Homo sapiens: one gene and its partners. The protein of the gene in region 2 purifies or fractionates together with the protein of the main gene of each other region. This does not show direct contact. Each region holds a gene or a part of one and is shown on either strand. Other genes may lie near its edges.

The links.
Region 1: the proteins of MAP3K7 (region 2) and SMAD6 purify together in Homo sapiens (affinity purification with western blotting; 2 studies listed by BioGRID). This does not show direct contact.
Region 3: the proteins of MAP3K7 (region 2) and TGFBR1 purify together in Homo sapiens (affinity purification with western blotting; 3 studies listed by BioGRID). This does not show direct contact.
Region 4: the proteins of MAP3K7 (region 2) and RIPK1 purify together in Homo sapiens (affinity purification with western blotting; 5 studies listed by BioGRID, with this or other methods). This does not show direct contact.
Region 5: the proteins of MAP3K7 (region 2) and CARD11 purify together in Homo sapiens (affinity purification with western blotting; 3 studies listed by BioGRID). This does not show direct contact.
Region 6: the proteins of MAP3K7 (region 2) and IRAK1 purify together in Homo sapiens (affinity purification with western blotting; 5 studies listed by BioGRID). This does not show direct contact.
Region 7: the proteins of MAP3K7 (region 2) and RIPK2 purify together in Homo sapiens (affinity purification with western blotting; 4 studies listed by BioGRID). This does not show direct contact.

Annotation. Positions count from the first base shown.
Region 1 is NC_000015.10:66,715,736-66,719,235, forward strand, and holds part of SMAD6 (mothers against decapentaplegic homolog 6), read left to right. Parts: intron 1-685; coding exon 686-763; intron 764-1,273; exon of another isoform or gene 1,274-1,405; intron 1,406-3,500. UniProt on the Homo sapiens protein: Transforming growth factor-beta superfamily receptors signaling occurs through the Smad family of intracellular mediators. SMAD6 is an inhibitory Smad (i-Smad) that negatively regulates signaling downstream of type I transforming growth factor-beta.
Region 2 is NC_000006.12:90,580,573-90,584,072, reverse strand, and holds part of MAP3K7 (mitogen-activated protein kinase kinase kinase 7), read left to right. Parts: intron 1-3,500. UniProt on the Homo sapiens protein: Serine/threonine kinase which acts as an essential component of the MAP kinase signal transduction pathway. Plays an important role in the cascades of cellular responses evoked by changes in the environment.
Region 3 is NC_000009.12:99,146,613-99,150,112, forward strand, and holds part of TGFBR1 (TGF-beta receptor type-1 isoform 1 precursor), read left to right. Parts: intron 1-1,041; coding exon 1,042-1,172; intron 1,173-2,567; coding exon 2,568-2,693; 3' UTR 2,694-3,500. UniProt on the Homo sapiens protein: Transmembrane serine/threonine kinase forming with the TGF-beta type II serine/threonine kinase receptor, TGFBR2, the non-promiscuous receptor for the TGF-beta cytokines TGFB1, TGFB2 and TGFB3.
Region 4 is NC_000006.12:3,109,994-3,113,493, forward strand, and holds part of RIPK1 (receptor-interacting serine/threonine-protein kinase 1), read left to right. Parts: intron 1-809; coding exon 810-962; intron 963-3,059; coding exon 3,060-3,346; 3' UTR 3,347-3,500. UniProt on the Homo sapiens protein: Serine-threonine kinase which is a key regulator of TNF-mediated apoptosis, necroptosis and inflammatory pathways.
Region 5 is NC_000007.14:2,935,868-2,939,367, forward strand, and holds part of CARD11 (caspase recruitment domain-containing protein 11), read right to left. Parts: intron 2,965-3,500; coding exon 2,812-2,964; intron 2,166-2,811; coding exon 2,040-2,165; intron 1,368-2,039; coding exon 1,170-1,367; intron 1-1,169. UniProt on the Homo sapiens protein: Adapter protein that plays a key role in adaptive immune response by transducing the activation of NF-kappa-B downstream of T-cell receptor (TCR) and B-cell receptor (BCR) engagement.
Region 6 is NC_000023.11:154,010,007-154,013,454, reverse strand, and holds the end of IRAK1 (interleukin-1 receptor-associated kinase 1), read left to right. Parts: intron 1-21; coding exon 22-412; intron 413-776; coding exon 777-926; intron 927-1,537; coding exon 1,538-1,596; 3' UTR 1,597-2,948; downstream 2,949-3,448.
Region 7 is NC_000008.11:89,767,816-89,771,315, forward strand, and holds part of RIPK2 (receptor-interacting serine/threonine-protein kinase 2), read left to right. Parts: intron 1-1,956; coding exon 1,957-2,114; intron 2,115-3,500.

The DNA of each region.
Region 1 (3,500 bases), on a different chromosome or scaffold from region 2:
ATGTACATATGAAGTACTTAAAACTACTTAAAAAAAAAAAAAAAAAGAACGCCTTAAAAAAAAACAGTCCAGGCATTAAAAGTTGCTCTTGTGAGCAGGTTTGGATGTTAGGGAGTGGGGGAGGGGAGAGAAAAAACAAAGTTAATCTGGGAGCAAATGCTTGAGCCCTTAATTAGAGGGGTGTAAGCGGGACAGAGTGAGGACGGCTGGTGACTTGTTAAAACAGTTTCCCCAGCCCTAGCGGGAGGGAGGAAGGAAGGAAGGAAGAAAGGAAGGAAGGAAGCAAGAAGGAACAACTTCAAGAATTTTAATGGTTGTAATTAAGTACAGCAACTATGAATTGTTTAGGGGCTTAATTTAACCTTACCCACGGAGGCTCCAAGTTGCTACTTGCTCGGTCCCCTGAACTTGGGTTATTTCTGTGGTCAGGGCAATGGCAGCGTTTTCAGGTACCAGCTTCACCACAGTCAGCACTTTCCAGAAGAGTTCCTGGGCTGGCTGGTCTGGTCTGGGGTGATCCTGAGATGGGGTTACAGGGTGACATCAGAAAGTTGGGAGGGACATGCTGCCCTTTGCAAGCACACACATCCACACACGTGCACATGTACAGAGATGCATGAGAAAGAAGAAAAAAGAGAGCGCTGCCCCACGGCCAACTAAGTTCTCTTTTTCTTTCCTCCCACAGATCTGTCCGATTCCACATTGTCTTACACTGAAACGGAGGCTACCAACTCCCTCATCACTGCTCCGGGTGAATTCTCAGGTCAGCATTTTTTCTTGTGCATTGCTGTTGTGTTGAAATTTATCGAAGGGGACAGCTGCGGAGGGGGCTTGGTGGAAGACTTTTTGACTTCCCCTCTTCTTTTTGTTTCCCTTTTCCTCCAATCCTTGGATGGGAAGGTTGCCAATGTTTCAGTCCCTGGTGTTTTTGGGGTTAAGAACAGTCTGTATGAGTGAAACCTGAAGATAACTTTTAAAGCACCTGTCTACCACGTTTTAACCAGTTGTCTCTCTCTTGTCTCACTTGGAAATGATAAAAGCTCAGCACAGCTCTCCCTTTCGTGTTTAGAAAGAGATCCTCTTCCCCCAGCTGCGAGAGGCAGCAAAGTGGATGTGGTATACATTTGTCTTCCTCCTGTCCTCACTCCAGGGGAGGGACCAATGTGAAGGGTCAGAAGATTGGGGGAATTGGAGCCGGTTGAATGAGCTTGCAGGGAGGATCTGGCAAGTGAGGAGTTTGGCAAAGCCAGTGGTTTCTGTGTCTCTCCCTGAGCAGCAGATGCTGGGATAGGAAGCCGAGGGAACCGTGGTTTGGAGTCCTCTGTCCCCTGCAGTTAGAAGCTGGTCATAGGGACCCCTACATCCGGAGGAATACCTGAATCAAACTTTCCTTGAGAAATGAGAGGTTGGTGTTGGACTGGGGACATCGAGGGCCAGGACCAAGGTCTGTGGGGCCCTTTGGGAGCATGGCTGGTGGCATGGTGGCCTGGTGGCATGCTGGCTGGGACTGACAGCCCCTCAGGCTGGGGCTGCATACCTTGTGGGCATGTCTGGATGGCTGTGTGTCTCCATCTGAGACATTCTTCCCTCACCCCACATCCATGCCATGGTAGCAGTCGCCAAAATCATAGCCATTTATTGAGTGTATGCTATGGCCGGCACTCCACTTGGCCGCTTTATATGCATTCTCTTGGGACAGCCATGGGCTGTTTGTCTCCAGGGTTTGTGCTCTTCATCACTGTTTTGTCCCCCACTTTTCTGCAAGGGCCAAATGTACCTTCAATAAATGTATTTCCCCTAAAGTCCTGTCGTTCTTGATGTAGTCTCTCTGCAACTCTAAGGATAATGCAGCACTGGCTGCTCATGGCTGCCTGGCCATTTCCCCAGCCCAGAGCCTTTGCCTATCCATTCCCTTCTCACCAAGGCATGGGAGCTTACAAGAGTATGACTGTTGCAGAGATGGGGAGGCTAGAAGCGGAAGCAGGAATGTGACTTGCCATACAGGGTCCCACAATGGGCAACCTGGTCCTGGGCTGCGGTGGTCCTGGGGTCCAGGTCTTCTGGGTCCTATTCCTGAGTGCCTTCTGGTCTTTGGTGGCTCCCTTCGTTAGGGTACTTCCTTCTCTAATAATTTATTTCCCTCAAAGGCCCAACCAGATGAACGCAAGTTAAAATTTCAATCCTTTCTTTTTTCCTCTGCACCTACATGAGTGAAAGCCACATATAATTTTGAAGCAAGGGGCTTAAAAGTATTTCTGAATTTGCGATTTTGTGTCACTGCCAGCCCTCAGATGGATTCCATTGGCGTTGGTTGTCTGGACAGATGGGTAATTTTTTGGCATCCTCTTTCTCCCTATTGTTAATGATGGAAAGTCCGTGTGTGTGTGTGTGTGTGTGTGTGTGTGTGTGTGTGTGTCTGTGCATGTGCATACCTTACAGTTTTAAGGTGTTTGCAGATGTAATCTCATTTGATCCCAGCCATTCCAGAGGGGGCCTGGTGTGGCTCAGGCTGAAAGGACCAGACCCCCAAGCACTGTCAGGAGGCCTCTCCCTCAATCCAGAGGCTGGGAAGTCTCAGGAGATCCCAAGGCCATTAGTTTTGTTGCCTTTGGGCCTCACTGGGCCTGTGTCTGAGATTTCCGACCGGATATCCCAGAGCAGTCTTTGGTACTGGGTGGTGAGAAGGTCCCTGCTACTCATGACTGTGCAAAAGGACTGTGTTGGAAAATGTGTCCAATGCTTTAGAATTCTAAGGAGCGGAAGGATTTGGGGAGGAAATTGGGGATTTCCTATGCCAAGGACATTGAGTGAGGTCTTGAAGGACTTTGGTGTGAGTTCTGGGTGGCCTCAGTAGGTGAATGGAGTGTTTCCCTTTGTGTCATCCTGGTCCCTTCCAGGGATGCCATGCGTGGAATGTTCCCCGCTGAGGGCCCACTGTTAGCTTTTCCAGCTTGCTCTGTGCTGTAGGGATCTGAGGTCCTGTGGGTTAAGCTGCCCGCCTGCCTACTGGGAGCCCAAAGACATGGGGCTGTGCTGGCTGTCACACTGGAGGACATATTCAGGGAGGGAAATGGCCTAGGGGGTGACAGGTCTTGGTGGATGGTGAAGGCACGAGTCATTCTGCAAGATGGAATGCAAGGTTGTGTGGGAGGGCAGGACTGGAGGTGAAGTCAGAAAGGTGAGGGGCAGAGGTGGGCACAATGTGTTGGGCCAGGCCGGGGCATTTGATGTCTAAGGACAAATAATGATGATGGTGCTGATGATGACAGCAGTTGACATTTATCGACACTCACTACATGTCAGGCACTTTGCTAAGCGCCAGCATTCTCCATTTCATTGACTCCTTACCACAACCCTGTGAGACAGGTGTGATTCTCCCCATTTCATAGAGGAGGAAACTGAGGCTCATTGCTGGGCCAACTGCCCATAATGTAAGTGGAAGGCTTGGAACATGAGCCTGGACAGTGTGACTGCCTAGCTCACACCCTGAGGGCCCTGCC
Region 2 (3,500 bases):
TAATTAGAAACTGTAAAAAAAATAATAATTCAACTACAGGCCAAATATGCAGCCATTTAGTAGATACATATTTCTAAGACATTAGCTGATCTTGCATTTCTAATATTGTAACTCAGTAGTATTAGTTTGGCACATCTTAGATTCAATTCAATTCAGTCAAATTAGGTAAGGTCTCAGCCTCAGAAATCTGCCTAGGTACTTTTTAAACATCATTTAGTGTTTACCATCTAGAACTGGCTGTAGAGAATGTTGGAATAAAAGAGGGGATGGGTTGCAAGAAGTGTTACACAGGGTAGTATAGTGGAAAGTGTTCTGGACTGAAAAAGAAAATTTAGATGCTGTACTGATTCTGCCATAATATATTTTTGTAACTTTGAGGAAGTCACCACATTTTTCTGGGCCTGTGGTTACTCATGTAAACTGACTGAACAAGATCATTTAAGGTCTTTTCCAGTTCTAAAATGAAAACACATTCATGTTTTCCAGTATTTAACTGTTTTCTATAGTAAGCTTAGCAGTTCTTTAAAGACTGATCATGGTCTCCTATAGAATTCAGTTGGTGACCAACTAATCCTGGGTTGACAGGGCAAATGATATCCCATTGTACAGATATTGACAAGCAGTCATAGAGTTTGACTTGCCAGAAGCCGCATGCCTAAGTAAATGGTAAAGCTGGGAATTGAATATGAGACTTCTCACTTGTGAGTCAGTTGCCCTTTCCACTGGATTTACAGTGTCACTCAGTACTTTCTGAAGTACTCTATAACCAAACCTAATATGGGAAAGGGGAAACAAAATACTGATTTCCTTTTTAGTGTAGTTGGTCCTGAGCATTTAATGAACATTCTCATCTGTGCGTAATACTCTGAGGTACTATAAAAGATAAATAGGGCTTGGTGCGGTGGCTCACACCTGTAATCCGAGCACTTTGGAGGGCCAGTGCGGGCAGATCACTTGAAGCCAGGAGTTCAAGACCACCCTGGCCAACACGGAGAAACCCCGTCACTACTGAAAGTACAAAAATTAGCTGGGTGTGGTGGCACAGGCCTGTAATCCCAGCTACTTGAGTGGCTGAGGCATGAGAATCGTTTGAACCCAGGAGGCAGAGGTTGCAGTGAGCTGAGATCATGCCACCGCACCCTAGCCTGGACAACAGAGGGAGACTCTGTCTCAAAAAAAAAAAAAAAAAAAAGATGATAGAAGAATCCTAGGATTACCTCCTTAAAATGTCTGACTTAGTATGATATCAGACTGGAGTAAACACAGAACAGTTAACTATAGACCACAAATTTAAAACTGAATATAGTGTAAATTAAACACTTAAGCCATAATTTGAAAATAGAGTTAATCACAGAAGGTTCCATTGAGTAGGGACAAGTTTAAAACTAGGTTTTGAATAAAGTGACCATCGTGGGTTGGGAAAGTCACTAAGATGAATTTTCTTTGTAGTTGTTCCTCTGCCTAAAGCGCTGTTCCCCCATAACTTAAGATGACTGACTCCTCACCAGTCAAGTCCCACCTCAAATGTTATTAACACTTCCTTAGAGAAGCATTCCCTGAACAACCTAGATCTTTTGTCATTTCTATTATCTTTCATGGTACTTACCAGTAACTGAAATTGTGTCTCTCCTTCAGCAAAATGTAAGGCGCTTTATTCACTTTTGTAACCCCAATGCCTAGAACCTAGAAGGTTCTCTATACATATTTGTTCAATGAGTACATGAAAGTATCACAGCATAATCATAAGAATTAAATGCCCATCTTGTTCTCTTATATTACATGTGATAAAATAGGAGCTGAGTTATGCGATTTGGCTAAGGCAACACGTTAGAAATGAGATCCGAGTCTTGTTTTAATGTCGACTCTATTATAGTTAGCAGATACTTTTGTTTAGCAGGGATAAAAAATGCTGTAAAGGGCCAGATGCTATGAGTAAGCCACGTATGGTAGGTCTTTACTACAGAGTGCTAAAAAGACACTATTTACAATGGTTGCTTTTGAAAAGGGAGACCCATAATGCTGACCTCAACTATAGTGTAGGAACAAAGCTATAGTATTGGACACATAAAATTACTGCAGCATTTGTATATATTCTTCAGCTTTGTTAAGGAGACACACAAAAGTTTTGTTTTAAAAGCTAAAATATGCTACAAAGAGGAGATATAGATAGAACTTAAACAGTTATATGTACTTTGTAGGTTTAAGTTATAAATATATGGGGAATTGGTATTAGAGAAAAACCTAATTTATAGTGGTCTAAACAAACTGAGTACATAGATTTGTTAGTCACTATTTAATTATGGATACCTAAAATAATCAATACATTCTTTCATGTGAAAGTGACCACTGATTTCAGTAGAAATCTGGAATTACTATAGTTAAGAGGTAGCTACAGAGATAATTTTTGCATTGTACACGTGTAGCTTAAAAGATAGCATGAGCATATTATTTGAAATAAAAGCCTAGAAAATGGGTGAGATGTACTGTGGCAGGTATTAAAAGACTGCATGAAACATTCAGAAGAAAGTTTGAATAATCAAAGCTTTACTTTTATGTTATCAAATCCATCTTGTCAGCAGATGGCAGTTCCACTCTGCCACAGTTTATTAATAGATATTGAAGTTCTAACATAGTTGGAGGCTCCAAGTCCTAACTAATAAATGTATGATCTATGCTTGTTCTGTCTTGTTCCGCATTTCCAGCCAGAACAATGCCAGCATCACCAGGGGTCCATTCAGATAGTTCATAGAACAGGGCCAAATGAAACTGACAGCTGTAGTCACTGAACTAAAAATAACATGAATTCAGAACAATTAAAAGAATTATTTAATAATAAATTAAGAGCACAAAGGCATACATCCTTTTCCATTTAGGTTAGGTGTGTGTTTGGTTGTTTTCTTTAACATGACTTGTCTGAAGGAATGGAGTCATCTTACATCATAAAGAAATTAATTTTTAAAGGAATTTCTTTAAAAATAACACACAAACACACAAAACCTGATTTTTGTTTTTGTGCCTTTCAATAGTAGTTGCATGGAAATGTTCTATATACCATCTCATATTCTTCTGTATTTTTTATTAAGAAATTAAATTTAAATCTACTTAATTGTATGAGACTAAAGTTGTAGACCCAAAACAAAGAGGTTTCAACCATAGGGGGAGAAATGCTTATCATAAAGTAATTAATCAAAAACATTTTGATTTAGAAAACATTCATAAATTTAGAAGGAAATATTTCCAAATTGACCTCCCTTTTAAAACCAAAGTCCTTTTTGCATTCCTCTGTTTTTTACAAATGAAGGATTATGAAGAATATCTGAAATATTTATTTGTATGTCACCATTTTAGTTGGATGTGTGTGATGGGGAAATACTTGTAACTTGATATGTTCTCTTTTTTACTCTTGATGAAAATTCATCTTTGGGGAAAAAACAGTCATTTAAAATAATGTTGGGCTAGGTACGGTGGCTCACACCTGTAATCCCAACACTTTGGGAGGC
Region 3 (3,500 bases), on a different chromosome or scaffold from region 2:
AATTGCTCTCCTCTCCCCCAGTAGTTTGTCATGAGCAGAAGTTGTTCAAGAATTGTCTTCTTTTTTTAATTGAATGAAATTATGTACAGTCCATTATCTGAAACAGGATGTCACCGAGTGCCAGAGAAAACAAAGGCGATGAAACCTTTGGGAGGGGACAGTGCCATGGTGTGCACATGCACAGCTCTAGCCTAGTGTATTCTCTTCCTGTTTCCATTTGAATCTGGAGACTCATCAGAACCCAACCCCTTGTTATATTGGAATATAGTTCTTTAGAATGGACAGCTGCTTGAGAGGCTCACCTAGGAAGCTGTTTCTAGCATGTACCTGGGTGTCAAACTTATTTTTTTTCTTTGAGATTGTGGTTATTTTCTCCAACTTGATAGTTACAGTTACATACACAGAATACAATTATGTTACCATTGTGTTGTATTCTAGAGTTAGTTTGTTTTAACTTCTAGCTTTTTAGATGGAGTACTTTTAATGTTTACTCAGGAAACAGTCTCTTAGGCTTGGGGACCTAGACTTGGCTGAGACCTAGTGCCTTAGGTTTTTGAAGCAGTGAGGGACAGAGTATTTCTCTGTATTGTAGTAAATAGGATATATTATTGACAGATGCAAGTAGAGAAAGGGACTTGGCACCTTAAACTTGCCTCATAAGATTCAAGTCTCACTGATAGGGTATATATATCCCTGTGCAAGTGAGAGCCTGTGCACTTACAGAATAGAATCTCATTTGCTGCACAATAGGGTTCTAGGGGAAAATGTCAATCTGGTCATCACAGCTCATAGTTTACTGTCATTTCAAATAGGCTTTATTGATCTCATGGCAATACTTAGTTTCAAGGTGTGGGTGGAATATCAACTCAGGGAAGTGGCTTGTGGATACAGATGTGGATGAGATAGAGAAAGCTGTAATCTCTGTTCCACATACCTACTTTAGTAATGAAACACTGTAATAGGTCTCTCAGGTGATCTTTTAATGCCTTGGCATTAGCTGAATAAATTCATCAAAATTTAATTTTTTTTAAACTGATACAGGAATTCATGAAGATTACCAACTGCCTTATTATGATCTTGTACCTTCTGACCCATCAGTTGAAGAAATGAGAAAAGTTGTTTGTGAACAGAAGTTAAGGCCAAATATCCCAAACAGATGGCAGAGCTGTGAAGTGAGTATTTCTTTTTGATATTAGGCAATTTTCTAAACTGCTTCTGCTTAGTAAGCAAAAGTTTGCTACTTTTCTTTAAGGAAAACTTTTCTTTAAGAATTTTCTTTTTCATAGCAGTCAAACCAATGTTTAAAAACAGAATAATTTGGTTTTCATATTCAATTGTAAGCACATTGAAAGGGCCATGGAACATTTGCAGTGGCCTTTAGTGTATCAGAACATAGTTTAGATCTGCCGGGCGAACTAAGGCACATATTTTTAAATGAATGCCTCCCTTCAGCCGGGGCAACCCAGAACACTAGACAGTTACCGGACATGAATGAGGAGCCCTGTATTCTAGACCAGCCTGGCTACCATTTCAAGGGTCTGACTCTGAACAAATCCCTTTAGTTCTCTGGACTTTAATATCCCTTTGCAAGGTGAGGAACTCAGATAAGGTGATTACAAAGGTGTTTCAAATGATTTTCCGTTTTATTCATCTGATTGCCCAGATAACCGTTAACCAGGAATTTAGGGAAAATGCTTTTTTCCAGCAGTATCTGAGCTGCTCAACTTCAGCTCTAACAAAAAGTTTTAGAAACGTTTTTGTAATTGTAAATTTAAAGATTCGTAAGATGAATTTTATTTAACCTCTCCTTAATTGCTAGCTGTTACTATTACAATATTGGTGAAGCAGAGCATATTCCTCCAGGTTTGAAGATTTGTAGCTTAAAAAGGCTATAAAAAGCTGTTCAGTTCAGTAGTTGATTTTACGTCTTAAACTATTGTAGGACTCAGCAGAACCTCTGATAAGCAAGAGAGCTTGCTACCTCCAACAAAATCACATCTCCAGGCCCAAATAAATAAAATGTATTTCAGCATGCTTAAGGAATTTGCATGTGACATAGTTTAATAAATGAGAGTGCTGCTAGATTTTGTCTTTTAGAAATTTGATCTACTTGGGAGGCTGAAGTGGGAGGATTGCTGGAGCCTGGGAGGTCAAGGCTGCAGTGAGCTGAGGGCATGCCATTGCATTCCACTTTGGGCGGCAGAGTGAGACCCTGTCTCAAAAAAAAAAAAAAGAAAGAAAAATTTGATGTGAATACTTCAAAGTACAAACTTAAAATTTCAGTGTGAGGTCAGATTTCTTCTTTGCTTTGCCCAGCTCTGGTTTAGGATTCGGCCTTTTCAGGTTTGCTAAATGAGTCACTCTTTGTCCACCTGCTTTCCAGCACTGGCACCAGTACCCTATTGATGGAAATTTATGTAATTTCTACTCATTTGCTATTACAAATAATGCTTAAACAATAACAAGTGTATATGTCATTTAAAAAGAAAATTTACACGTAAAAATTCTTATCCAGACCAATGGAAAATGGTGCATGCATTAATTTTTTTTTTTATATTTTCTTGTAGGCCTTGAGAGTAATGGCTAAAATTATGAGAGAATGTTGGTATGCCAATGGAGCAGCTAGGCTTACAGCATTGCGGATTAAGAAAACATTATCGCAACTCAGTCAACAGGAAGGCATCAAAATGTAATTCTACAGCTTTGCCTGAACTCTCCTTTTTTCTTCAGATCTGCTCCTGGGTTTTAATTTGGGAGGTCAATTGTTCTACCTCACTGAGAGGGAACAGAAGGATATTGCTTCCTTTTGCAGCAGTGTAATAAAGTCAATTAAAAACTTCCCAGGATTTCTTTGGACCCAGGAAACAGCCATGTGGGTCCTTTCTGTGCACTATGAACGCTTCTTTCCCAGGACAGAAAATGTGTAGTCTACCTTTATTTTTTATTAACAAAACTTGTTTTTTAAAAAGATGATTGCTGGTCTTAACTTTAGGTAACTCTGCTGTGCTGGAGATCATCTTTAAGGGCAAAGGAGTTGGATTGCTGAATTACAATGAAACATGTCTTATTACTAAAGAAAGTGATTTACTCCTGGTTAGTACATTCTCAGAGGATTCTGAACCACTAGAGTTTCCTTGATTCAGACTTTGAATGTACTGTTCTATAGTTTTTCAGGATCTTAAAACTAACACTTATAAAACTCTTATCTTGAGTCTAAAAATGACCTCATATAGTAGTGAGGAACATAATTCATGCAATTGTATTTTGTATACTATTATTGTTCTTTCACTTATTCAGAACATTACATGCCTTCAAAATGGGATTGTACTATACCAGTAAGTGCCACTTCTGTGTCTTTCTAATGGAAATGAGTAGAATTGCTGAAAGTCTCTATGTTAAAACCTATAGTGTTTGAATTCAAAAAGCTTATTTATCTGGGTAACCCAAACTTTTTCTGTTTTGTTTTTGGAAGGGTTTTTGTGGTATGTCATTTGGTATTC
Region 4 (3,500 bases), about 87 Mb from region 2:
TGTAGCTAGACCACAGTTGGGTTATCCACTCATCTGCTCATGGGTGCCTGGCTTACTTCCACCTTTTAGCTATTGTGAATAATGCTGCAGTGAACACGTGGGTAGAAATATTTCTTCAACACCCTGTTTTAGTTCTTTTGGGTATATACTCAGAAACGGAATTGCTGGATCATATGGTAATTCTATCTTTAATTTTTTTGAAGAATCACGATTTTTTTTTTTTTTTTTTTTTGAGACAGACTCTCACTCTATCACCAGGCTGGAGTGCAGTGGCACGATCTTGGCTCACTCTGCAAGCTCCGCCTCCTGGGTTCAAGTGATTCTCCTGCCTCAGCCTCCTGAGTAGCTGGGATTACAGGCACCCACCACCACGCCTGGCTAATTTTTGTATTTTTAGTAGAGAAGGGGTTTCACCATGTTGGCCAGGCTGGTCTTGAACTCCTGACCTCAGGTGATCACCTGCATCAGCCTCCCAAAGTGCTGGGATTACAGGTGTGAGCCACCGCACCTGGCCCACTATACTCTTTATAGGAGCAGCTGCACCATTTCACATTCCCACCAGCAGTGCACAAGGGCTTCATTTTTTCCACATCTTTGTCAATATGTGTTATTTCTTTTTTTTTTTTTAATCATAGGCATCCTAATGGGTATGAGGTGGTTTAGCCAGATTTGAAAGAAGAAAAGTTTAAAGGGTGGCATAGGATAATTAACTTAATGTTTGGCATAAAGCCCTGCTTTTTTGCCATGCTGTATTTTTTTCTCTTGCTTTTGATCTAGAATTACTTACCTGTGTGTTTCTCTCTATGCAGATGAATCTATAAAATATACCATATACAATAGTACTGGCATTCAGATTGGAGCCTACAATTATATGGAGATTGGTGGGACGAGTTCATCACTACTAGACAGCACAAATACGAACTTCAAAGAAGAGCCAGCTGCTAAGTACCAAGCTATCTTTGGTAAGATACCCTGGAAGGACTCAACGCCTAGCAACCTTGAACTTTCTTACTTGTGAGAAGGACATAGTGGAATCTTAAAATTTCTCTGATAATTCTTCTTGAAAGTTTTCTTATGTTACTTCTGCAAAATATCTTTGTAATTTCCATATAATTCCTTTGTCATTTATTTATTTTTAATATGGAGATAATCACAGTATTTAATTTATGGATTTGTTGTGAAAATTAAATGAGTTGATATGTATAAAAAGCTTAGAACACTGCCTGGCACATAGTAAGTTCTATAAAAAGTGTTAAACTTTCATCATCATCATCATCAGTATTACTTCTCAGACCCAGAAGAAATAGCTGTGTCAGGCCCTCATCGAAGGAGATCCTGTAAAAGATAGAAGACTGTGCCCTCCACAGCACTTCTGTAATAAAATCAAGAGGGCTATCTCTTATAGGGTTCTATGGTGCAGCCCATAATGCTAATCCCAAAGTACAGTCTGGAAAAAGTCATGAGGCCAAAACGACTTGATTAAGAACTCAGCTTTCTAATTAACCATGGGATTGGCGCTTTTTTTTTTTTTTTCTGTAAAGGAACCAATAGTAAATGTTAGGCCCTGCTGGCTTTGAGGTCTCTTGGAACTACTCACCTCTCTTATTGTAGTGCAAAAGCAACCACAGACAATATGTACATGAATGAGCACGGCTGTGTTCCAATAAAAGTGGATTTACAAATGCTGGCAGGAGTCAGATTTGGCCCACAGGCCATAGTTGGCCAACCCCTGGTCTAACCCATTTGAAGGACAGCTTTTAAAATACCTAGAACAGAACTTGCGAATGGTCAGGGGCACCTGTGAGAATCTAATGAAACCCAGGATCTACCCCCTACAGAAATATTGACAAAATTTGGAAAATATCTTGGGAAGTTCTTGGACTGCTGACAATCTATAAGATATGGATAGAGAGAGAGCCACATCACAGAGGGCTGAGGAAAGAAGAGAGGTGGGAAGGAAGAATGAAATGTTTTCTTCCTTATATTCTGTTTAATGAGGTAGTGTGGGGATTAAGGAATTTTTTTTGTTGTGGTTGTTGTACATTTTCATTTGTTTCCTTTTATTATTTTTATGAAGGGCGAAGGGAAGGAACCAGTAGAAGGAGAGAGGTTATGGCTATTGGAGAAGAGGCAATGTCGGTCGGCAGTGGGGTGGAGTAAAGGAGGGGTTAGGGTCCAAAAACAGACCTTGAAGAGTATAGTTACCTCGTCGCTTGAAAGACAAGGAAGGCTTTGTAACTGAATGGGTTCACGCCTGCTGGACAATTCCTTGATTAAGTAAGAGGAAAGTGAACTGTTGGGCCGGGGTGGTGGTCAGGAGTTGAGCGGCTTTAACTCTGGCCAGATGTAAGCGGAGAATGTCTAAAAGGAACAAAAATGGTGGTTTTCCCTTTACACCCAGGAAGGTCTAATACCAACAGGATCACTGGCTAAGATTGACTAGAACACCCAACCTCGTAGCCACACAGGGGTTTTGTTCACAGAGCCATCAGCTGTGGCTCAGGGATGTGTCTACTAGGAGGAAGGAATGCCTTATTCTTTTTTGTTTTGTTTTTGAGACAACATCCTGCTCTGTGGCCCAGGCTGAAGTACAGGGGCACAGTCATGGCTCACTGCAGCCTCGAACTCCTGAGTTCAAGTGATCCTCCTGTCTCAGCCTCCTCAGTAACTGGGACTACAGGCATGTGCCACCATACCCAGCTAATTAAAAAAAATTTTTTTTTTGGTAGAGACAGGTTCTTGCTGTGTTGCCCAGGACTGGTCTAGAACTCCCGGGTTCAAGTGATCCTCCTGCCTTGGCCTCCCAAAGTGTTGGGATTATAGGCATGAGCCACCACGCCAGGCCGGGAATGCCCTATTCTAATTCACATAAAGACTCCATGTGGGCTAGCAGGCATGTGAAATGTCTGCCAGTGCATCAACAGCTATATAACTAAGAAGTTATCTTTTTCACTGTCTTCTGGTACTCTTCATTTCACTTGGGTTTTTTAGCAATTCAGGAAGCTGGAATGTTTGAATGGGTTTTAGCTTGATACCTTCTTCTTTTTCCCATTTGGCAGATAATACCACTAGTCTGACGGATAAACACCTGGACCCAATCAGGGAAAATCTGGGAAAGCACTGGAAAAACTGTGCCCGTAAACTGGGCTTCACACAGTCTCAGATTGATGAAATTGACCATGACTATGAGCGAGATGGACTGAAAGAAAAGGTTTACCAGATGCTCCAAAAGTGGGTGATGAGGGAAGGCATAAAGGGAGCCACGGTGGGGAAGCTGGCCCAGGCGCTCCACCAGTGTTCCAGGATCGACCTTCTGAGCAGCTTGATTTACGTCAGCCAGAACTAACCCTGGATGGGCTACGGCAGCTGAAGTGGACGCCTCACTTAGTGGATAACCCCAGAAAGTTGGCTGCCTCAGAGCATTCAGAATTCTGTCCTCACTGATAGGGGTTCTGTGTCTGCAGAAATTTTGTTTCCTGTACTTCATAGCTGGAGAATGG
Region 5 (3,500 bases), on a different chromosome or scaffold from region 2:
CAGCAAGGAAGTGGCCAGGTCAAGCTTGCCTTTTTTTTTTTTGAGATGGAGTCTTGCTCTGTCACCAGGCTGGAGTGCAGTGGCGTGATCTCGGCTCACTGCAACCTCCGCCTCCTGGGCTCAAGCGATTCTCCTGCCTCAGCCTCCCGAGTAGCTGGGACTATGGGCACGCACCACCACGCCTGGCTAATTTTTTTGTATTTTTAGTAGAGACAGGGTTTCACCATGCTGGTCAGGCTGGTCTTGAACTCCTGACCTCGTGATCCACCTGCCTCGACATCCCAAAGTGCTGAGATTACAGGCGTGAACCCTCGCACCTGGCGCCCTGCATCTTCTTATTTATGTTTTTAATTTTAATTTTTTAAATTTTTAAAAATTTTCGCTCTGTTGCCCAGACTGGTCTTGAACTCCTGCCCTAAAGCGATCCTCCCACCTCAGCCTCCCAAAATGCTGAGATTACAGGCATGAGCCACTGTGCCCAGCCCTACCCTGCATCTTCTAACTTCAAAATGAGTGGCTTCCACTCATCACTAAACAGACACAAACACAACAGTAAAAGATGTGGATTATGCTGGGCGTGGGAGGGAACTTCCGGCTTCAAATATATGAAGAGCCAACCGGGCACAGTGGCAAACGGCTGTAATTCCAGCTCTTTGGGAGGCTGAGGCGGGAGGATCGCTTGAGGATAGGAGTTTAAGACCAGCCTGGGAAACAGTGAGACCTCGTCTGTACAAAAAAATTACAAAATTAGTCAGGAATTGTGGTGTGTGCCTTTAGTTCCGCTACCCAGGAGGCTGAAGTGGGAGGACTGCTTGAGCCCAGGAGTTTGAGGCTGCAGTGAGCTGTGATAGTGCCACTGCATTCCAGCCTGGGCGACAGAGTGAGACCCTGTCTCAAAAGCAAAACAAAACTAAACAAAGGACAAGGAGCCATTCATTGCACAGGGAAGCGGCGACTGGTCACAGCCCTCAGTGGGTGCCAGGGGGCACCTGGCTTCTGGTTTGGGGCCCCACAGGGAGGTGGCGACTGGTCACAGCCCTCAGTGGGTGCCAGGGGGCACCTGGCTTCAGGTGTGGGTCTCCACGGGGAGGTGGGGACTGGCCACAGCCCTCAGTGGGCACCAGGGCCCACCTGGCTTCAGGCGTGGGGTCCTGCCCGTCCCGCCCCACCTGGTCCAGGTTGTTGCTGTCCTTGGAGAGGCGCCGCAGCTTGCTCTCCAGGTTGACGATGCAGGCCTCCCGCCGCACCATCTCGATCCTCATCTCGTCGTTCTTCTCCTCCAGCTCGCGGATCTGCTTCCTGTACTTGTCCTTTTCGATTAAGCACTGCGAGTACTGTGTCTGAGCTTCATCTCGGGAGTGGAAGGCCTGCCAGGGAGAAGCGGGACGAAGGCTGCTTTGGGGGTTGCACCCCAGCCAAATCCAGCTGGGCCCAGGGACAGGCATCATCCCAACCCAGGGGCCAGCCACATCGTCTGTGGCTCTCGTCTGCAGTCTGACCCCTGGGCGTGTCAGTCACTACCTTCTTCATTAACGCGATCACAGAGCCGATGGTCCGACCCTTGCTAGTGGCAGGCTCTGTGTTGAGAGCTTTGATGCAGTGTCCCTGGAAGGCCACAGCCTGTCCCTATGAGGCGGTGCTACCGTAATTATCCCCATTTTACAGATGAGGGCACTGAGGTCAGGGGTGGCAGCTTGCCTATGGGCATACACCTTATGAATGACAGGGCTGGATCTGAACCCATCCTCTCACCCGAGAGAACACACAACATTTAAGAACCATGCTTGGTCGTGGGAGCTGCTGGAGCCCAGCTCGGATCCCCCTGCTACCCAAACGCCTGTGACTTCCAAAAAAGCCTTTTGGAATTCATCTTTTAGAATTCATCTTTGGAACAGAAATGGGAAAGATGGATTCAGGAGTGATCCCTGCATTGTCAGTGATGTTGCACTGGACAAAACACTCTGAAGGAGCCGGTGGTCTGGGGTGCGGGCCCCGCTGTGCAGCCTCGCCGCCCTGCACGCTGCAGGTGGTGCCTGTACCTGGTCCCGCTCCCGCTCCACCTCCTCCAGCTGCAGCATGACCGTGTTCATGCGGTGCTTGTACATTTCACAGTCCTTTCCCAGGGTCGAGCACTTGAGCTCCAGGTCCTCCTTCTCCTCCAGGTACTGTGAACCACACAGAGAAATCAATATGCGCATCGAGCAATCAATAGGTCAGGACTGAAAGCTGTTCTCTGCTCGTGCCTTCCCGCCAGCTGGCTGGAGCTGGCCTGTCCCTCCCTAAGCTGGCATGGTCAGGACATGGCCTGCCCTTCTGGGAACCGACTATCTGACTGTTGGGGCTCAAGGTAGGAGACCAATCAACCCAGCATTGTTGTGAACCCACTACAGACCAGGTAACATAGGGGAGGACAATGTGATCTCAGTCAGGAGGGGGACACAGGTGCTAAGCTGGTGCAATAGCTTGTACATGCCCAAGGGTGGCCGGCACATCTGGGATCCTGCAATCCGCAAGGTGTGGGTGAGGCTCTGAGACTCACACCTTGGCAGGTATGTGGGTTCCCCCAATCCCAAGCCCTCACCCTCCCCTCTGCCCACATTGCTCCCACCCCCAGGCCCTCATCTGGTTGATAAACTGCAGCTTCTGCCAGGGGCTGAATACTGGGAGGTACAGGGGATTTATGCCAGGGGTCTGATCTAGTCCCTGGAAAGGAGTGTGGGGTCAGGGAGGTCCTGCTGACACACACCACTGCCCCCTGGTGTGAAGGGGGCCGGCCGAGGGCACCGCTGGGCGGGCGATCCCCACTCCCACCTTGTCTCGCAGCTCCTCTGCCTGGCGGGCCTCCTCCTGCAGGTTGTAGATCCTGTTGACCAGCTCCTGCCTGTCCTCCAGGGCCTCCTTGCGGTCGTGTTCCAAGATGTCCAGGATGGCCTTGTCTGAGTCTGGCAGGCTGCGCTTCCCGGCCTGGGTGGGAGGGAGGAGGTTTCAGAGGGTCAGGGTCGGGGTGGGGAGCCAGGTGGTCCTGGAGGGCAGGGGACAGAAGAACCAGCAACAGATACGGACAGAGCAGAAGGTTTTGTGCCTGGAAGGTAGAGGCAAGAAGAGATGTATGTCCCCTGGGGTCTCTAAGAAGCTTAGCATTTAAGAAGTTTATTGCCTGGAAAGAAGCAGAAAACTGGCTTTTGCTTGGGCGTATCCTGGGCCTTTTGTTCTCCCTGGCGCTTATCGGAGCGCAGAGAAGCAGTTGCTGCACCCGAAACACTTTTTAGATGCTGCCCCTGAAATATCAAGGAATCTGTTCTGGAGAAGCTGGGTTCATCCTCGGCTCTGAAACAGAGCCTCATATACCAGGCAGCCACTCCTGGGGGGACTGTTCTGGAGGGAGCAGGAGGATGCATGTTTTTTTTCTTGCCCTGTAGATATGTTTTGGGATGTCACTCCTCAGCAACTTCCTCCTCTGTGCCCACAAGTGACTCGGCGATGACAAGTGTGGGGAGGCA
Region 6 (3,448 bases), on a different chromosome or scaffold from region 2:
GTCCCTCTTTTCCACTTGCAGGTGTACGAGAGGCTAGAGAAGCTGCAGGCAGTGGTGGCGGGGGTGCCCGGGCATTCGGAGGCCGCCAGCTGCATCCCCCCTTCCCCGCAGGAGAACTCCTACGTGTCCAGCACTGGCAGAGCCCACAGTGGGGCTGCTCCATGGCAGCCCCTGGCAGCGCCATCAGGAGCCAGTGCCCAGGCAGCAGAGCAGCTGCAGAGAGGCCCCAACCAGCCCGTGGAGAGTGACGAGAGCCTAGGCGGCCTCTCTGCTGCCCTGCGCTCCTGGCACTTGACTCCAAGCTGCCCTCTGGACCCAGCACCCCTCAGGGAGGCCGGCTGTCCTCAGGGGGACACGGCAGGAGAATCGAGCTGGGGGAGTGGCCCAGGATCCCGGCCCACAGCCGTGGAAGGTAGCTGGGGAGACGGGTTCCCAGGAGAGGGACCAAGGCCTCTTTGGGCCAAAGCCCCTGTAAGTCCCCACCCCAGCCTTCTAGAAGAGAACCAGGGCCAAATGTTCAGCTCACTGTGACCTTAGCAACCCTGGTTTCCCCTCCCCAGGCCACATCCTTCCCAGGTGGAGCTTGCTCTCCAGCCCTCCCCCCACCCCATTCCTGAAGGCTGGGAACAAGGAGGGCTCTGTCTGGTAGCCTGAGAGCTGGGCCCTGCCCTTGGACTTCTCTGAGGAATTCAGGCCTGAGGCCAGGGAGGCAGGGTGCTAGGCTGCGGGCTGGGGAGCCACAGCATGAGGCTAAGGGAGTGCCATCTCCACCCCAGGACTGGCCCTTGGCAGCTCTGCATCATCGTCGTCAGAGCCACCGCAGATTATCATCAACCCTGCCCGACAGAAGATGGTCCAGAAGCTGGCCCTGTACGAGGATGGGGCCCTGGACAGCCTGCAGCTGCTGTCGTCCAGCTCCCTCCCAGGTGCTGCCGCCCAGGCTGGCCTCTGGGGTGCTCAGGCGCATCCGTGTCAGCCCCAAAGAGCAGAGTGTCTGTCCCGACTGCGCTGAGGGCGTGGGGCAGCCGGGCAGGCCACTGGCTCTGGCGACCTCTAGAAGCCCAGCCGGCCCCACATGCCTCCCTTAGCAAGACCCTGGCCCACTCCTTCCCTCGCCTCCTGACAGTAGCACCTCCTTTAGCCCGAGGGTGCCTGCCCCACTCTGTGCTTTCAGGAAATAGGAAGCCCCAGCAGGAATTTTCCATCCCAGGTACTATTTGAAGAACCACTGCTTAGGAACCCTCAGCTGGGCGAGGTGGCTCATGCCTATAATACCAGCACTTTTGGAGGCCAAGATGGGAGGATCACTTGAGCCCAGGAGGTGGAGGCTACAGTGAGCTGTGATCAAGCCACTGCACTCCAGCCTGGGAGACAGTTAGACCCTGTCTCAAAAACAAATGAACAAACAAACAAAAACCCTCAATTCCCACGAACGCCCCAGGAGATAAGGGAGCATGGCCCAGGCCTTGAGCCAGGGCTTCTGGCAGTAGGGGAGCCTCCCCCATTTGCTAAGCGGACTTTCCTCTTCCTTCTGTAGGCTTGGGCCTGGAACAGGACAGGCAGGGGCCCGAAGAAAGTGATGAATTTCAGAGCTGATGTGTTCACCTGGGCAGATCCCCCAAATCCGGAAGTCAAAGTTCTCATGGTCAGAAGTTCTCATGGTGCACGAGTCCTCAGCACTCTGCCGGCAGTGGGGGTGGGGGCCCATGCCCGCGGGGGAGAGAAGGAGGTGGCCCTGCTGTTCTAGGCTCTGTGGGCATAGGCAGGCAGAGTGGAACCCTGCCTCCATGCCAGCATCTGGGGGCAAGGAAGGCTGGCATCATCCAGTGAGGAGGCTGGCGCATGTTGGGAGGCTGCTGGCTGCACAGACCCGTGAGGGGAGGAGAGGGGCTGCTGTGCAGGGGTGTGGAGTAGGGAGCTGGCTCCCCTGAGAGCCATGCAGGGCGTCTGCAGCCCAGGCCTCTGGCAGCAGCTCTTTGCCCATCTCTTTGGACAGTGGCCACCCTGCACAATGGGGCCGACGAGGCCTAGGGCCCTCCTACCTGCTTACAATTTGGAAAAGTGTGGCCGGGTGCGGTGGCTCACGCCTGTAATCCCAGCACTTTGGGAGGCCAAGGCAGGAGGATCGCTGGAGCCCAGTAGGTCAAGACCAGCCAGGGCAACATGATGAGACCCTGTCTCTGCCAAAAAATTTTTTAAACTATTAGCCTGGCGTGGTAGCGCACGCCTGTGGTCCCAGCTGCTGGGGAGGCTGAAGTAGGAGGATCATTTATGCTTGGGAGGTCGAGGCTGCAGTGAGTCATGATTGTATGACTGCACTCCAGCCTGGGTGACAGAGCAAGACCCTGTTTCAAAAAGAAAAACCCTGGGAAAAGTGAAGTATGGCTGTAAGTCTCATGGTTCAGTCCTAGCAAGAAGCGAGAATTCTGAGATCCTCCAGAAAGTCGAGCAGCACCCACCTCCAACCTCGGGCCAGTGTCTTCAGGCTTTACTGGGGACCTGCGAGCTGGCCTAATGTGGTGGCCTGCAAGCCAGGCCATCCCTGGGCGCCACAGACGAGCTCCGAGCCAGGTCAGGCTTCGGAGGCCACAAGCTCAGCCTCAGGCCCAGGCACTGATTGTGGCAGAGGGGCCACTACCCAAGGTCTAGCTAGGCCCAAGACCTAGTTACCCAGACAGTGAGAAGCCCCTGGAAGGCAGAAAAGTTGGGAGCATGGCAGACAGGGAAGGGAAACATTTTCAGGGAAAAGACATGTATCACATGTCTTCAGAAGCAAGTCAGGTTTCATGTAACCGAGTGTCCTCTTGCGTGTCCAAAAGTAGCCCAGGGCTGTAGCACAGGCTTCACAGTGATTTTGTGTTCAGCCGTGAGTCACACTACATGCCCCCGTGAAGCTGGGCATTGGTGACGTCCAGGTTGTCCTTGAGTAATAAAAACGTATGTTGCAATCTCGGGCTCTACTTGTGGACTTTGTTGCACCGAAAGCCTTGAGCTTTCCTGATGCCTTACACTTCAGGGTTCTTGAGCGTCCAGGGTCTTGTTACTACTCTGGGCTGGCCACACCCAGCACTTCCCGTGTCAGGTTTTTCCTGATGTAGTCCATGTTTTTTATGCTATTCTAAATGGTATCTTTGATTTTCTAGTTCATCATGATATTATACAGAAATGCAATTGATGCTGGGCACGGTGGCTCACGCCTGTGATTCCAGCGCTTTGGGAAGCTAAGGCGGGCAGATCACTTGAGGCCAGGAGTTTGAGACCAGCCTGGGCAACATGGCGAAACCCCGTCTCTACAAAAAGTACAAAAATTAGCCAGGCATGGTGGTGCATGCCTGTAGTTTGAGCTACTCAGGAGGCTGACCCAGGAGGATAGTTTGAGCCCAGGACGTTGAGGCTGCAGTGAGCCATGATTCCACCACTGCACTCCAGCCCGGGCAACAGAGGGAGA
Region 7 (3,500 bases), on a different chromosome or scaffold from region 2:
TGAAGATAGCTATGAGCTGTCTCCCAAACCCTCACGTACAAGTGCATTTTATCCATCTCCCTGATAAATACCCTTTAGTTCCTTCAACTCGTTTTCTTATTACATGGATTTTAATCCTTGGTGCTATGTAGATGCATCATTTTGTTTAAATCTCACTTAAATGTTGATCGTCAGAACTGAACACAATACTATTTTTGGTGCGGTTTGATGAATGCAGACTTTAGTGAAAGTGTCATTTCCTTGGCCCTAAATACTTAATAGTTCCTTAATAATTCATCAGCTTTCCAGGGGTAGTCATATCACATAGTTCAAATTGGGCTTAGTGTCAACAAAAAACCCTTGGAGGTTCTTTTTGCCACGTATCGTTGCTTAAGCCACCTCTTCTTAAGCAACAAAGTACACAAAATAATGTACTTTGCAGAATACTTTCTAGATATGATCAAATTTTATCTTGTTAGATTGGAGCAATTGCTTCAGTCTCTTAAGACCTTTTTGAATGTTATTTCTATAATCCAAAGGTTTTAAGTTTCTCTCCAAGTTTTGTGTGATGCTGAAATTTAATTAGCTAATTTTTTGTATCTTTAAGTCATGATTAAATATGAACCAGTACAGAGCTTGAATCAGAGCTGTATCACATGGCCATAAGAACCTTCATCTGGGTCAATATCAGTCCTTTTGTTAATCCGCGCTTTTGGAGAACACTCATTCAGTTTGTCTGGAATACTCCTAAAAGTGCTATTATACAGCCCATATTTCTTCATTCTGTCCTTAAAAATTTTTCTGAAAGTCTTTGCTTAACTGCTTTTCTCAGCTGTTCTCATGACTTAGTCATCTTGGTCCTTTTCTGTGAATTCAATTTTAAAATTCTTGATTATTTTTATTTTTTTTCTTAAATTGACTCTTTTATTGTAGCAAATGAATGAAAAATTCATTTATTCTACCCCTCCTTTTTGGGAATGGAGGCCATAATTTTTTTTATCTCAAATTCATCTAAATGCTAATAAAAATTATGTATTTTGTTAAAATTGGTAAAAAATATAGGAGGTAAACAATGGAAACAAATGATGTGCTGCATGGAGCTCATTTCACTCTGCTGAATTCTAAAGTATGCAGTAAAATATTTTAAGTAATTTCAGTGTCTTTTAGGATTTCCCATACTCCCTTGTCAATTAAATATTATTTCTGTTCTTACATTTTGTCTTACATTTTTAAAAAATAAAGTAAAAAATAAGGAAGCTTTTAAATATTTAGTTATAAGATACTGTATAATATGTGCATAAGATTTACAACTGAAGCAAAACTGTACAGGACATATCAAAGGCACAGAATATTGTCACTGATAATTCTTTAGGCACCCATTGTATTGGACATAAATATGTTTTCTTTGCAATTATACTGTTTCCATGAAATACTTCTTTTAGTGATCAGCATAAAATTGTATAATAATTACCTTTACAATTTTGAGATTTAGTGTATTTCTTAATTTAAGGATGCTACCTTTAGGGCATTATTAATACAACTGTATAAACCAGAATTGTAAACAATGACCAGTGACAATTGCATGAGATGTGAGTAGACTTGGCAGCTCTGTGAGATGTAGGAAGCACATGGTATCAAGCTATATGTCATGAAAAGTAAGGTGTGCAAGGTACACACTCATTGAGAATATCAGACAAAAAATGCCTCTGCTCAATTTTCAAAAATTAGTCTCTCTTTTGAAATTTGTAATGTTATATTAAACTTTAACTCAGTATGTATTGCTCCTAGAGTTATTTGGCTCAGCAGTGTGGAATTTAATTTTGTAAGAAGTTGGGGGAATATACAGAAATAAAATATTAAAATATATTACATTTTCTCTGGTTTGATATCTAAATACAGTGAATATACAAAAAGATAGTTGACTTTTGGACTTTTTAAAGAGGAAATTTCTTAATTATTTGCTCTTGTCCCTTACAGATTGCAGATTTTGGTTTATCAAAGTGGCGCATGATGTCCCTCTCACAGTCACGAAGTAGCAAATCTGCACCAGAAGGAGGGACAATTATCTATATGCCACCTGAAAACTATGAACCTGGACAAAAATCAAGGGCCAGTATCAAGCACGATATATATAGGTAGAGTAAAGTTGCTTCTGCTCAGATTTAACCTTGTCTCAGACACAAAATTAGTCAACCAGAATTTTGAAGCTACATTTTAAACTGTGATTTTTATTCTTCTCTCATAATTGTGGTGAAAATAAACTTGAGGCCCCACGGTGATTAATATTTTTCAAATTAAGGAAATTTAATGATTTGCTTTAAGAAACTTTTACATCCTTTAAGAAATTTTAAAGCATCTCTTCTTATCCTATCAATTTATAATATAATAGTTAAGGATTTTTATCATATGTGACTTGGAAATGCAGAGGGAAACAGTGGTTCCTAACATTTTAGCTTTAGGTTTCTCAACCTGTTCAACCTTTTAGCTTTTGATATCTATATATCTTTTTAGATAAATAGACAAACTCTTAATCACACTGGGGATATTTCTATTTAAAGAATCCCTAATATTTGTATATGTGTGAATTTTTTATACAACAAATCAATGGGTTTGATAAGATCATATTTTCATATTTCAGATGCATATTACTTATAATCTCATAATGCAGTAATAAGCATAACACATTGTTATTGACACTGGTTATTTAACCAGAATAAAAGGAAGATGATTATTTACACAGGTTTAGGAGATGGGGACATTCACCTCATGTATAAGTTACTCTTATCTCTTTTAATATACTAATGAATGCAAAAGCAGACTCTCTAAGTTTGCTCTGAACACATTTTATAGTCCTTTAAATGGCTTTTTGCCATCTTTAATAAATAATTTGTTAATGAATCATTTTAGGAATGAATGCTATATCTCTACCAGAAAACTATATATTTAATTAAATTGCATATTCCTTTTCTTCAAAAGCATTTTAATTTTTGTTATTTCTCATTAAAACCAAAGCCAGCCAATCCATTTTAGTGGCTGCACTAAAACAATTCATACAGTGTCTTTTACATTCACATTGTATGAATATAAGAAACTGTCCTTTTATATTTTGTTTTCTGATATTTTTAATTCATTCTGAATGATGTACTGAGGGGAGGAGAAATGTATTTATAGCTTCCTAAGGTAGAGATCATGTTCTACCCAACAATTCTTAAAGCTGGTTTGATTCTATAAAAATGGGCCAATAAATCTGCCAGTCATTCATTTTGTGAATTTTCCCTTTATGTTCAATTTCAATATTCTCTGTCAGGGAAAAATGAGGAAATATTATTCCTTCATTTGGGTAGGAATTCCCTCTGTACTCCTCGCTCTCCCTGTAACACAAGGTGTTAGTAGTAATAAATTCTATGTGTCCATTTTGAATGCATGGTTAATGTTGGGGTGTGGCAAAATTCTTATATCCTATTTAACCATTTATTCTAATTATAAACTCTATGCAGCTTAACCCTGTAATTGACATCTGA